3 linked regions of the Homo sapiens genome follow. The protein of the gene in region 1 purifies or fractionates together with the protein of each later gene. This does not show direct contact. Each region holds a gene or a part of one and is shown on either strand. Other genes may lie near its edges. The genes, in order: RBM34, CENPC and NPM1.

What was found.
Region 2: the proteins of RBM34 (region 1) and CENPC purify together in Homo sapiens (affinity purification with mass spectrometry; 2 studies listed by BioGRID and IntAct, with this or other methods). This does not show direct contact.
Region 3: the proteins of RBM34 (region 1) and NPM1 purify together in Homo sapiens (affinity purification with mass spectrometry; 4 studies listed by BioGRID and IntAct, with this or other methods). This does not show direct contact.

What each region holds. Positions count from the first base shown.
Region 1 is NC_000001.11:235,140,625-235,144,276, forward strand, and holds part of RBM34 (RNA-binding protein 34), read right to left. Parts: intron 1-3,652.
Region 2 is NC_000004.12:67,507,482-67,511,133, forward strand, and holds part of CENPC (centromere protein C), read right to left. Parts: intron 1,625-3,652; coding exon 1,333-1,624; intron 1-1,332. UniProt on the Homo sapiens protein: Component of the CENPA-NAC (nucleosome-associated) complex, a complex that plays a central role in assembly of kinetochore proteins, mitotic progression and chromosome segregation.
Region 3 is NC_000005.10:171,401,246-171,404,897, reverse strand, and holds part of NPM1 (nucleophosmin), read right to left. Parts: intron 1-3,652. UniProt on the Homo sapiens protein: Involved in diverse cellular processes such as ribosome biogenesis, centrosome duplication, protein chaperoning, histone assembly, cell proliferation, and regulation of tumor suppressors p53/TP53 and ARF.

The sequences.
Region 1 (3,652 bases):
CCCCTGCTCCACGACGCCCAGTCCCATCGACCACCAAAGGGCTGGGGAGTGCAGGCGCACGGCATGGGATTGGCAGGCAGCTCCACCTGCAGCCCCGGTGCAGGATCCACTGGGTGAAGCCAGCTGGGCTCCCGAGTCTGGTGGGGATGTGGACAACCTTTATGTCTAGCTCAGGGATTGTAAATACACCAATCAGCACCCTGTGTCTAGCTCAGGGTCTGTGAATGCACCAATCGACACTCTATATCTAGCTACTCTGGTGGGACCTTGGAGAACTTTTATGTCTAGCTCAGGGATTGTAAATACACCAATCAGCACTCTGTATCTAGCTCAAGGTTTGTAAACACACCAATCGGCACCCTGTGTTTAGCTCAAGGTTTGTGAGTGCACCAATCGACACTCAGTATCTAGCTGCTCTGGTGGGGCCTTGGACAACCTTTATGTCTAGCTCAGGGATTGTAAATACACCAATCGGCACTCTGTATCTAGCTCAAGGTTTGTAAACACACCAATCGGCACCCTGTGTTTAGCTCAAGGTTTGTGAGTGCACCAATCGACACTCTGTATCTAGCTGCTCTGGTGGGGCCTTGGACAACCTTTATGTCTAGCTCAGGGGTTGTAAATACACCAATCGGCACTCTGTATCTAGCTCAAGGTTTATAAACACACCAATCAGCACCCTGTGTTTAGCTCAGGGTTTGTGAGTGCACCAATCGATACTCTGTATCTAGCTGCTCTGGTGGGGCCTTGGAGAACCTTTGTGTCGATACTCTGTATCTAACTAATCTGATGGGGACATGGAGAACCTTTGTATCTAGCTCAGGGATTGTAAATGCACCAATCAGCACCCTGTCAAAACAGACCACTCGGCTCTACCAATCAGCAGGATGTGGGTGGGGCCAGATAAGAGAATAAAAGCAGGCTGCCCTAGCCAGCAGTGGCAAGCCACTCGGGTCCCCTTCCACACTGTGGAAGCTTTGTCCTTTCACTCTTTGCAATAAATCTTGCTACTGCTCACTCTTTGGGTCCACGCTGCTTTTATGAGCTGTAACACTCACCGCAAAGATCTGCAGCTTCACTCCTGAAGCCAGCGAGACCACGAGGCCACCGGGAGGAACGAACAACTCCAGACGCGCTGCCTTAAGAGCTGTAACACTCACTGCGAAGGTCTGCAGCTTTACTCCTGAGCCAGTGAGACCACGAACCCACCAGAAGGAAGAAACTCCGAACAAATCCGAACATCAGAAGGAACAGACTCCCGACGCACCACCTTAAGAGCTGTAACACTCACCGCGAGGGTCCGCGGCTTCATTCTTGAAGTCAGTGAGACCAAGAACCCACCAATTCCGGACACATTCTCTTGATGGAGGAGAAGGCTAAGCTGCTAGGGGAGGGATAGCAAACCCTGTCACTCCAGGGCACAGAGAAGACCCCTACAGCCGGAGGAAGGGAGGAGTCCAGCTACCGGGGGAGAGGTGGGAAACATCCTCTGCATAATCCCCACTAAAGGTACAAGGCATTTGGCACAGCTTGGCTGCCCCGGGAAAAAAGCCCTGATCAGGTGCACTCCTGAGACACGGAAACACTAAGACAAGACAGCAGAGACCCTGCTGCGCCCACTCCCACCAGACTACCAAGCCAACTGACAAGCAATAGCACTTTTTTTATTTTGAGACGGAGTTTCTCTCTTGCAGTCCAGGCTGGAGTGCAATGGCATGATCTCGGCTCACTGCAACCTCTAACTCCCATGTTCAAGTGATTCTCCTGCTTCAGCCTCCAGAATAGCTGGGATTACAGGCGCACGCCACCACTCCTGGCTAATTTTTGTATTTTTAGTAGAGACGGGGTTTCACCACGTTGGCCAGGCTGGTCTTAAAATCCTGACCTCAGGTGATCCGCCCACCTTGACCTCCCAAAGTAATGGATTATAGGCGTGAGCCACTGTGCCTGGCCAACAACAGCACTCTCTAAATGAGATCTTCAATAAAACTTAAAACTTTCAATCTTTAAGAGACACCTCTGGGCGTGTGTGGTGGCTCATGCTTGTAACCCTAGCACTTTGGGAGGCAGAGGTGGGTGGATCATCTGAGGTCAGGAGTTCGAAACCAGCCTGGCCAACATGGTGAAACCCCGTCTCTACTAAAAATACAAAAATGACCCGAGTGTGGTGGCGCACGCTTGTAATCCCAGCTACCTGAGAGGCTGAGGCAGGAGAATCAGTTGAACCCGGGAGGCGGAGGTTGCAGTGAGCTGGGATCGCACCACTGCACTCCAGCCTGGTGACAGAGCAAGGATCCATCTCAAAAAAAAAAAAAAAAAAAAAGACACCTCTAAAAAAGCCAGCCACAAACTGGAGCAAAATATCTGAAACACACATAGCAGGAAAAGGTGTTATATCTAGAATATATAAATAACTCCTTACAACCATATAAAAATAATTTAAAAGTCACTAAAAAATGGGCAAAATTTTTGTACCAACATTTCACCAAAGAATAGATACAAATAGTAAGCACATAAGATGCCTAACATTTTTAGTCACTGTGGTTGACAAACCTTCAGAATGTCTAAAATTAAATGACAATGCCAAGTGCTGGTGAGGATGTGAAGCAACTGACATTCTCATCGATAGCTGGTAGGAATGTAAAATGGTACAAACACTTTGGAAAACAATTTTGCAGCTTCTTAGAAAGTTACAATATACCGTAAGATCTGGCAATCCGACCAGGCAGTTTCTCAAAAGAAATGATCCGTACCCAAATTTTTTTTAGCAGTTTTATGTATAATAGCCAAAGGCTGAAATAACCTGAATGTTCATAAACTGGTGAATGGGGCCGGGTGCGATGGCTCACGCCTATAATCCCAGCACTTTGGCAGTCTGAGGCGGGCGGATCACCTGAGGTCAGGAGTTTTAGACCAGCCTGGCCAACATGGCAAAGCCCCATCTCTACTAAAAGTATGAAAAAATTAGCTGGGCATGGTGGTATGTGTCTGTAATCCCAGCTGCTTGGGAGGCTGAGGCATGAAAATCACTTGAACCCGGGAGGTAGAGGTTGCAATTAGCCGAGATGGTACCACTGCACTCCAGCCTGAGCGACAGAGCAAGACTCCATCACAATACAATACAGTACAATACAGTACAATACATCACAATAAATACAACACAACACAATAAACAGGTGAATGGATAAACAAATACTGTCATACAAGGGAATACTACTGAGCAATAAAAACGAATTAATTACCAATGCATTGCAATAATAAGAACAAATCTCAGACAGGCACGGTGGCTCAAGCCTGTAATTGCAACACTTTGGGAGGCAAAGGCAGGAGGGCTACTTGAGCTCAGGAGTTCAGGACCAGTCTGGGCATTAGTGACACCTTGGCTCTACTAAAAACTTAAAAATCAGCCGGGTGTGGTGGCGAGCACCTGTAGTCCCAGGTATTTAGGAGGCTGAGGCAGAAGGACTGCTTGAGCCCAGGTGATAAGGCTGCCGTGAGCCATTATCGTGCCACTGAACTCCAGCCTGGGCAACAGCAGAAGACACTGTTCCCCTCCACCAACCCTCCCCCACAAAAAAACAAACCTCAAAATCATTATGCTGAGCAAATTAGACAAGAGTATATCCTGTATGATGACTCTACTTATATAAAA
Region 2 (3,652 bases), on another chromosome or scaffold:
TAGGAACAACTGTATGCCAACAAATTAAATAACCTAGATGAAATGGACAAACTCCTAGAAAGACACAAATTATCAAAATTGATTCAAGAGGAAACAGTCTCAAAATACCATGAATCAGTAATCAAAAACAAACTACCCATATAGAAAAGCTCAGGCACAGGTGGCTTCACTGCTTTTACCAAACATTCAAAGAGAATTACGACAAATTATTCACAAACCGTTTCAAAAAATAGAGAGATAATACTTCCCAACTCATTGTATAAAGCCAGTATTACCCTGATACCAAAACTAAACAAAGACAACAGAAGCAAAGCAAGCTACCGATCAGAACCCCTCAACAAAATACTAGCAAATTCCAGCAACACAATAAAATAAAAGAGAGAGAAAAGCAGAGAATGGCCTGAAAAAGTGAAACAGAATGGGTATGGGATTTCTTTATGCACTATAATGATATACGCTAATATATTTTAGGACACACTGTCATTTATTTCAGTATATCCTCAGCACCTTACTGATTCCAACACAAAGTATGTATTACCTCAATAGGTTGTTGGAACTAATAAGAATTCATTAAAAGTATCTAGCAAATATTTGGCACATAGTATGAACTCAAAAAATGTTAACTATTATCATCCTAAGAAGAAAAGTATTAAGCTATATTCCTAACTATTGAAATCACATTAATCTCACTTAAAAGGAAACAATTTGAACTATACACTTAAAAAAGATTAAGACAGTAAATTTTATGTTATGTGTTTTTTGTCTGTTTGTTTTTTGAATCTCTACTTTGGGAGCCCAAGGCAGGAGAATCACTTCACACCAGGCGTTCAAGACAAGCCTAGGCAACAAAGCAAGACCTCATTTCTCCAACAAATTAAAAAATTAGCCAGGTGTGGTGGTCCACACCTGTAGTCCTAGCTACTCAGGAAGCTAAGGCAGAAGGATTATCTGACCCAGAAGTTTGAGGTTACAGTGGGCTATGATCACGCCACTGCACTCCAGCCTGGGAAACAGAGGAAGACTCTGTCTCTTAAAAAAAAAAAAAAAAAAAAAAAGTTTAACTCTTGGATGACAATAATATCTTATTAAATTTAACAGTCATAATTCCAGGTGCTATGTACTATTCCCTATTTTAATATGAGGAAACAAGTGCAGAGTACTACTTTGCCTGTGTGTCATCCAGCTAATGGTAGAGGCTGGATTTAATACCAGGTATGTCAGAGTGCAGAGCTCTTCATGCTAATTACTGCCTGTCCATAAATGACTAAATAGCACAAATTATTAAATGCTGAACAACAAAAGTAACTATATTGTACACATAACAGACATTACCTAGAACAATCAAGATTTTTCTTCTTAGCCAAGTCTGCCTCATCACTTTCCAATGGCTCACTCAGCGAACATCTGGAAATTTCATCATGACCAACGATACCTCCAGAACCTTCAGCATTTAAAAACTTCTGTACTCTTTGGTTGCCTTTAGTTGCTGTCTTCTGCCTTTTAAGTGGAATAGTTTTTTTCCTAATATTCTTAGATGACTGATTTGTTTTCTTAGTAGATTTTCGGCTACTATTGTGATGCATTGGTAATTCATTTCTTACTGAAGAATTGCTATAAACAGGACCTGAAGGATTCAATGATAACCTAAAGTTAGTAAGTTTGTCCAGATGATTTGGCTCACTGAAATACCAACAGCATTTATATTTGCATATAAACATATACACATACACACACACACACACACACACACACACACACACACACACACACACACATCTCAGGCTAAATTTATTTCCAAATTAAATTCTTTAAACAATGTAGCTCTTCAGTTTATAGATATATGAAACAGGCCCTTCAAATCTGTCACAGGCTTCAAGAAACACTCTCTGGCTCTGCCCACTGCCCTTCTGGCCATCCTTAATATCTGATATTCCCCAAGGTGACAGCTTCAGCTTTTCACTCCATATACTTTCATTGACGGACTTATCTACCCAGAGCTTTAATTACTATCTATATGCTGACACCTATAATATCCATCTACTGCTCTCCCCTATATCTGCCTCTCTTGCTTTATTTCCTATCTTAATGAAAAATACAACTACCTATTCTATCCAGATATCTAAATCAGAAATTTGAGTCATGCAAGACTACTACTCCTATCCACAATCACGCCCTAAATCCCATCAATTCTACTTTATTAATGCCTTTCAAATCTTTCAAGCTCTCCCTCCTGTCATTAGTAGAAGTCCTCATTATTTCATATCTGGATTATTAAAACAGTCTCTTTACTAATCTCCCCCTCCCTAGCCTTGTTTTTCTTCAATCCATTCCCTACACTGCTGCAAGAATCACCTTTGGAAAACAAAAACTGGATCATTACAACTCTGCTTAATTAAAGTATTTTAGTTATTATCTATAGCTTCAGGATGAAGTCCAAATACTTCAACATCAATTCATATCTACATCTAGATTTGCTTATTTCATAAACCACAATTCCCAAAACCCCCCTCCAAACAAACAAACCAAAAAAAGCCATCAGTAATGAACAATCTACAGTTTCTCTAAAGCACTGGTTGTCCAAAGGCAGTCTCTAGACCAGCAAGATCAGCATTATCTGGGAATTTGAAATGTAAATTATCATGCCTCACCTCAGACCCCAGTGAATCAAAGACTTTGCAGAGCAGGGCCCAGTAACCTGTGCCTTAATAGGCCCCCCAGACAATTCTAAAGCACACTAAATTAAAGAAAGAAAAGATCAAGCTCTCTGCTCCAGATCTCTGCACAAGCTACTTCTACTTAAAACATTCCATAACTTCCTCCTTACTCCACTCAATCACTTAGCTAACTCCTAGTTCATCCTTCAGGAAGCTTTCCCTAATTTCCAAGTCTTAGGTAGCTTGCTATCACACATACGACTGTTTACTTATCTCTACTTCTCTCCTCCAGCAGACTAACAACTCCTTGACCTCAAGTAATTGATTGGTATTTTATCTATGTATATTCCCAATGCCTAATGACAGGGGCAGGACTATGGTGAAGCAAGAGTAGCCTCAGCTGGAAAATTCAAGAAGGTACTCATTTTCAGGTCTGTGCAAGTACAGAGCCCGAACTGATACAATCCTGTGACTGACTGCCTTAAATTTTTCACCCTAGTGTCTCATTGTCTTACCCTAGTCCTGGTCCTACTTTACCTCATTCCTGCCCCATGGCAAGTACTCCATATACATTTCTTCATATATATGGAAGGGCAACAGTGTCACACGTACGACAGGCAGGCTGGGGGCAGGTCAAGTTGTTCTTCTTAACTTCAGACTTCAGTTTCTTCTTCCATCAGATGAGAGTTTAGACTATATGATATATAAAGATTCCTCCACTTTTTCGACTCCCAGCTTGATCAAAAATCCAACATCTATTTCAGGACTCTTAAATAAGTGTTTTTTGATAGTTTCAGAGATCTAGCACATTTATCCAAGTTCTGTAAGAATTTATTTACCCATCTGTTTATGTATTCATCTGCCACATAGTACTTAGCATTTCAGGCAACCTGGGGCAGAAAAGTGAGTTCCCCAAAGCAGTAACAGTATTATTTAACACTTCAATACTAACATATGCCACCTACTATGCTAATTGCATTTAAACCTTATAAAAACTC
Region 3 (3,652 bases), on another chromosome or scaffold:
GTTCAAAAAAGGAAATCAGGGCAGACAGAGTCTCGTTCACTCAGTGCTCAATGGTGCCCAGGCTGGAGTGCAGTGGCGTGATCTCGGCTCACTACAACCTACACCTCCCAGCCGCCTGCCTTGGCCTCCCAAAGTGCCGAGATTGCAGCCTCTGCCCGGCCGCCACCCCGTCTGGGAAGTGAGGAGTGTCTCTGCCTGGCCGCCCATCGTCTGGAATGTGAGGAGCCCCTCTGCCTGGCTGCCCAGTCTGGAAAGTGAGGAGCGTCTCCGCCCGGCCGCCATCCCATCTAGGAAGTGAGGAGCGCCTCTTCCCAGCCGCCATCACATCTAGGAAGTGAGGAGCGTCTCTGCCCGGCCGCCCATCGTCTGAGATGTGGGGAGCGCCTCTGCCCCGCCGCCCCATCTGGGATGTGAGGAGCGCCTCTGCCCGGCCGAGACCCCGTCTGGGAGGTGAGGAGCGTCTCTGCCTGGCCGCCCCGTCTGAGAAGTGAGGAGACCCTCTGCCTGGCAACCACCCCGTCTGAGAAGTGAGGAGCCCCTCCGCCCGGCAGCTGCCCCGTCTGAGAAGTGAGGAGCCTCTCCGCCCGGCAGCCACCCCATCTGGGAAGTGAGGAGCATCTCCGCCCAGCAGCCACCCCGTCCGGGAGGGAGGTGGGGGGGGGTCAACCCCCCGCCCGGCCAGCCGCCCTATCTGGGAGGGAGGTGGGGGGTCAGCCCCCCCGACCGGCCAGCCGTGCCATCCGGGAGGGAGGTGGGGGGGTCAGCCCCCCACCTGGCCAGCCGTGCCGTCCGGGAGGGAGGTGGGGGGGTCAGCCCCCCGCCCGGCCAGCCGCCCCGTCCGGGAGGTGAGGGTTGCCTCTGCCCGGCCGCCCCTACTGGGAAGTGAGGAGCCCCTCAGCCCGGCCAGCCACCCCGTCCGGGAGATGGGGGGGTCAGCCCCCCCACCCGGCCAGCCGCCCCGTCCGGGAGGGAGGTGGGGGGGTAAGCCCCCCGCCTGGCCGGCCGCCCCGTCCGGGAGGGAGGTGGGGGGGTCAGCCCTCCGCCCGGCCAGCCGCCCCGTCTGGGAGGTGAGGGGCGCCTCTGCCCGGCCGCCCCTACTGGGAAGTGAGGAGCCCCTCTGCCCGGCCAGCCGCCCCGTCCGGGAGGGAGGTGGGGGGGTCAGCCCCCCGCCCGGCCGGCCGCCCTGTCCGGGAGGGAGGTGGGGGGGTCAGCCCCCCGCCTGGCCAGCCGCCCCGTCCGGGAGGGAGGTGGGGGGGGTCAGCCCCCCTGCCCGGCCAGCCGCCCCGTCCGGGAGGTGAGGGGCGCCTCTGCCCAGCCGCCCCTACTGGGAAGTGAGGAGCCCCTCTGCCCGGCCACCACCCCGTCTGGGAGGTGTGCCCAACAGCTCATTGAGAACGGGCCAGGATGACGATGGCAGCTTTGTGGAATAGAAAGGCAGGAAAGGTGGGGAAAAGATTGAGAAATCGGATGGTTGCCGTGTCTGTGTAGAAAGAAGTAGACATGGGAGACTTTTCATTTTGTTCTGCACTAAGAAAAATTCCTCTGCCTTGGGATCCTGTTGATCTGTGACCTTACCCCCAACCCTGTGCTCTCTGAAACATGTGCTGTGTCCACTCAGGGTTAAATGGATTAAGGGCGGTGCAAGATGTGCTTTGTTAAACAGATGCTTGAAGGCAGCATGCTCGTTAAGAGTCATCACCAATCCCTAATCTCAAGTAATCAGGTACACAAACACTGCGGAAGGCCGCAGGGTCCTCTGCCTAGGAAAACCAGAGACCTTTGTTCACTTGTTTATCTGCTGACCTTCCCTCCACTATTGTCCCATGACCCTGCCAAATCCCCCTCTGTGAGAAACACCCAAGAATTATCAATAAAAAAATAAATTAAAAAAAAAATAAAAATAAAAAATAAATAAATAAATAAATAAAATGAAAAAAAAAAAAAAGAACTACCTGAGATTGGGTAATTTATGAAGAAAAGAGGTTTAATTGACTTACAGTGCTGTAGGCTGTATAGGAAGCATGGCTAGGAGGCCACAGGAAATTTACAATCATGGCAGAAGGCAAAGGGGAAGCAAGGCACATCTTACATGGCAGCAGAAGAGAGAGAGCACAAAGGGGGAGGTGCTACACACTTTCAAACAACCAGATCTCATGAGAATTCACTATCAACAGAACAGCAAGAGGGAAATCTACCCCATGATCCAATTACCTCCCACCAGGCCCCTCTTCCAACACGTGGGGATTACAATTTGAGATGAGATGTGGGTGGGGACACAAAGCCAGACCATATCAGGTATTAGGTTGATTCCATGTCTTTGCTATTGTGAATAGTGCTGCAGTGAATATTTGTGTGCATGTATCTTTATGGTAGAATGATTTATATTCCTTTGGGAATGTAATGGGATTGCTGGGTCAAATGGTAGTTCTGTTTTTAGCTCTTTGAGGAATCGCCACTCTGCTTTCCACAATGGTTGAACTAATTTACACTCCCACCAAGAGTGTGTAAGCATTCCCTTTTTTCTGCAACCTTGCCAGCAGCTGTTGTTTTTTGAGTTTTTAATAATAGCTATTCTGACTGGTGTGAGATGGTATCTCATTGTGGTTTCGATTTGCATTTCTCTAATCAGTGATATTGAGCTGTTTTTCATATGCTTTTTGGCCACTTGTATGTCTTTTGAAAAGTGTCTGTTTATGTCCTTTGCCCACTTTTTAGTGGGGTTGTTTGTATGGAGGTTCATCATTAGTTACATTTAGTCAATAGATTATATGTGTTGTAGAATATGAAATTTATTCGTTTAAATTGTAAATAAACTATTTCATCAGGTTAAAAAAAAAAAAAAAAGGAAATCAGAAAATCCCTAAGAATAAAGCAAGAAAGTCACTGTAGTCTGATGCCTGGCGCCCACCCCAGACCATTTTTATGACAATCTCCATAAGTAGAGCACAAGTACTGGGGTTCCTTTAAACTTTTTTTCCTTTAAATTCCATTTTCTGCAGGGAAGTGGGTAGGGTCAGGAATGAGATCAATACACCCTGTCTAGGCCCAAATGTTCTACTTCAAGCTAACATGCAGCCAAGGTTGAGAACTTCTACTCTATGCAGACATACCTTTCAACAAAGATTCCTTACAGGAAACAACTATTGACTTCACAATCACAAAAAATTCAGGCCAGGCGTGGTGGCTCACACACTTTGAGAGGCCCAGGAGGGCGGATCACCTGCAGTCAGGGGTTTGAGACCAGCCTGGCCAACATATAGAGTGAAACCCCATCTCTACTCAAAAATACAAAAATACGCTGGGCCTGGTGGCACGCGCATGTAGTCCCAGCTACTTGGGAAGCTGAGGCAGGAGAATCGCTTGAACCCGGGAAGTGAAGGTTGCAGTAAGCCGAGATCACGCAACTCTAACCCAGACTGAGTGACAAAGTGAGGGTCCATCTCTTTCAAAAAAGTCTATTGGCTCCCCCCGCCCCACCACCTTACATTTAGTATGTTTGTGTGTGTGTGTGTACCTACAACACACAACAAGCTGATTTTTTTTTTTGGAGGCGGAGTCTCGCTCTTTTGCCCAAGCTGGAGTGCAGTGGTGCAATCTCACTGCACTCCACCTCCCAGGTTCAAGCAATTCTCCTGTCTCCACCTCCTGAGTA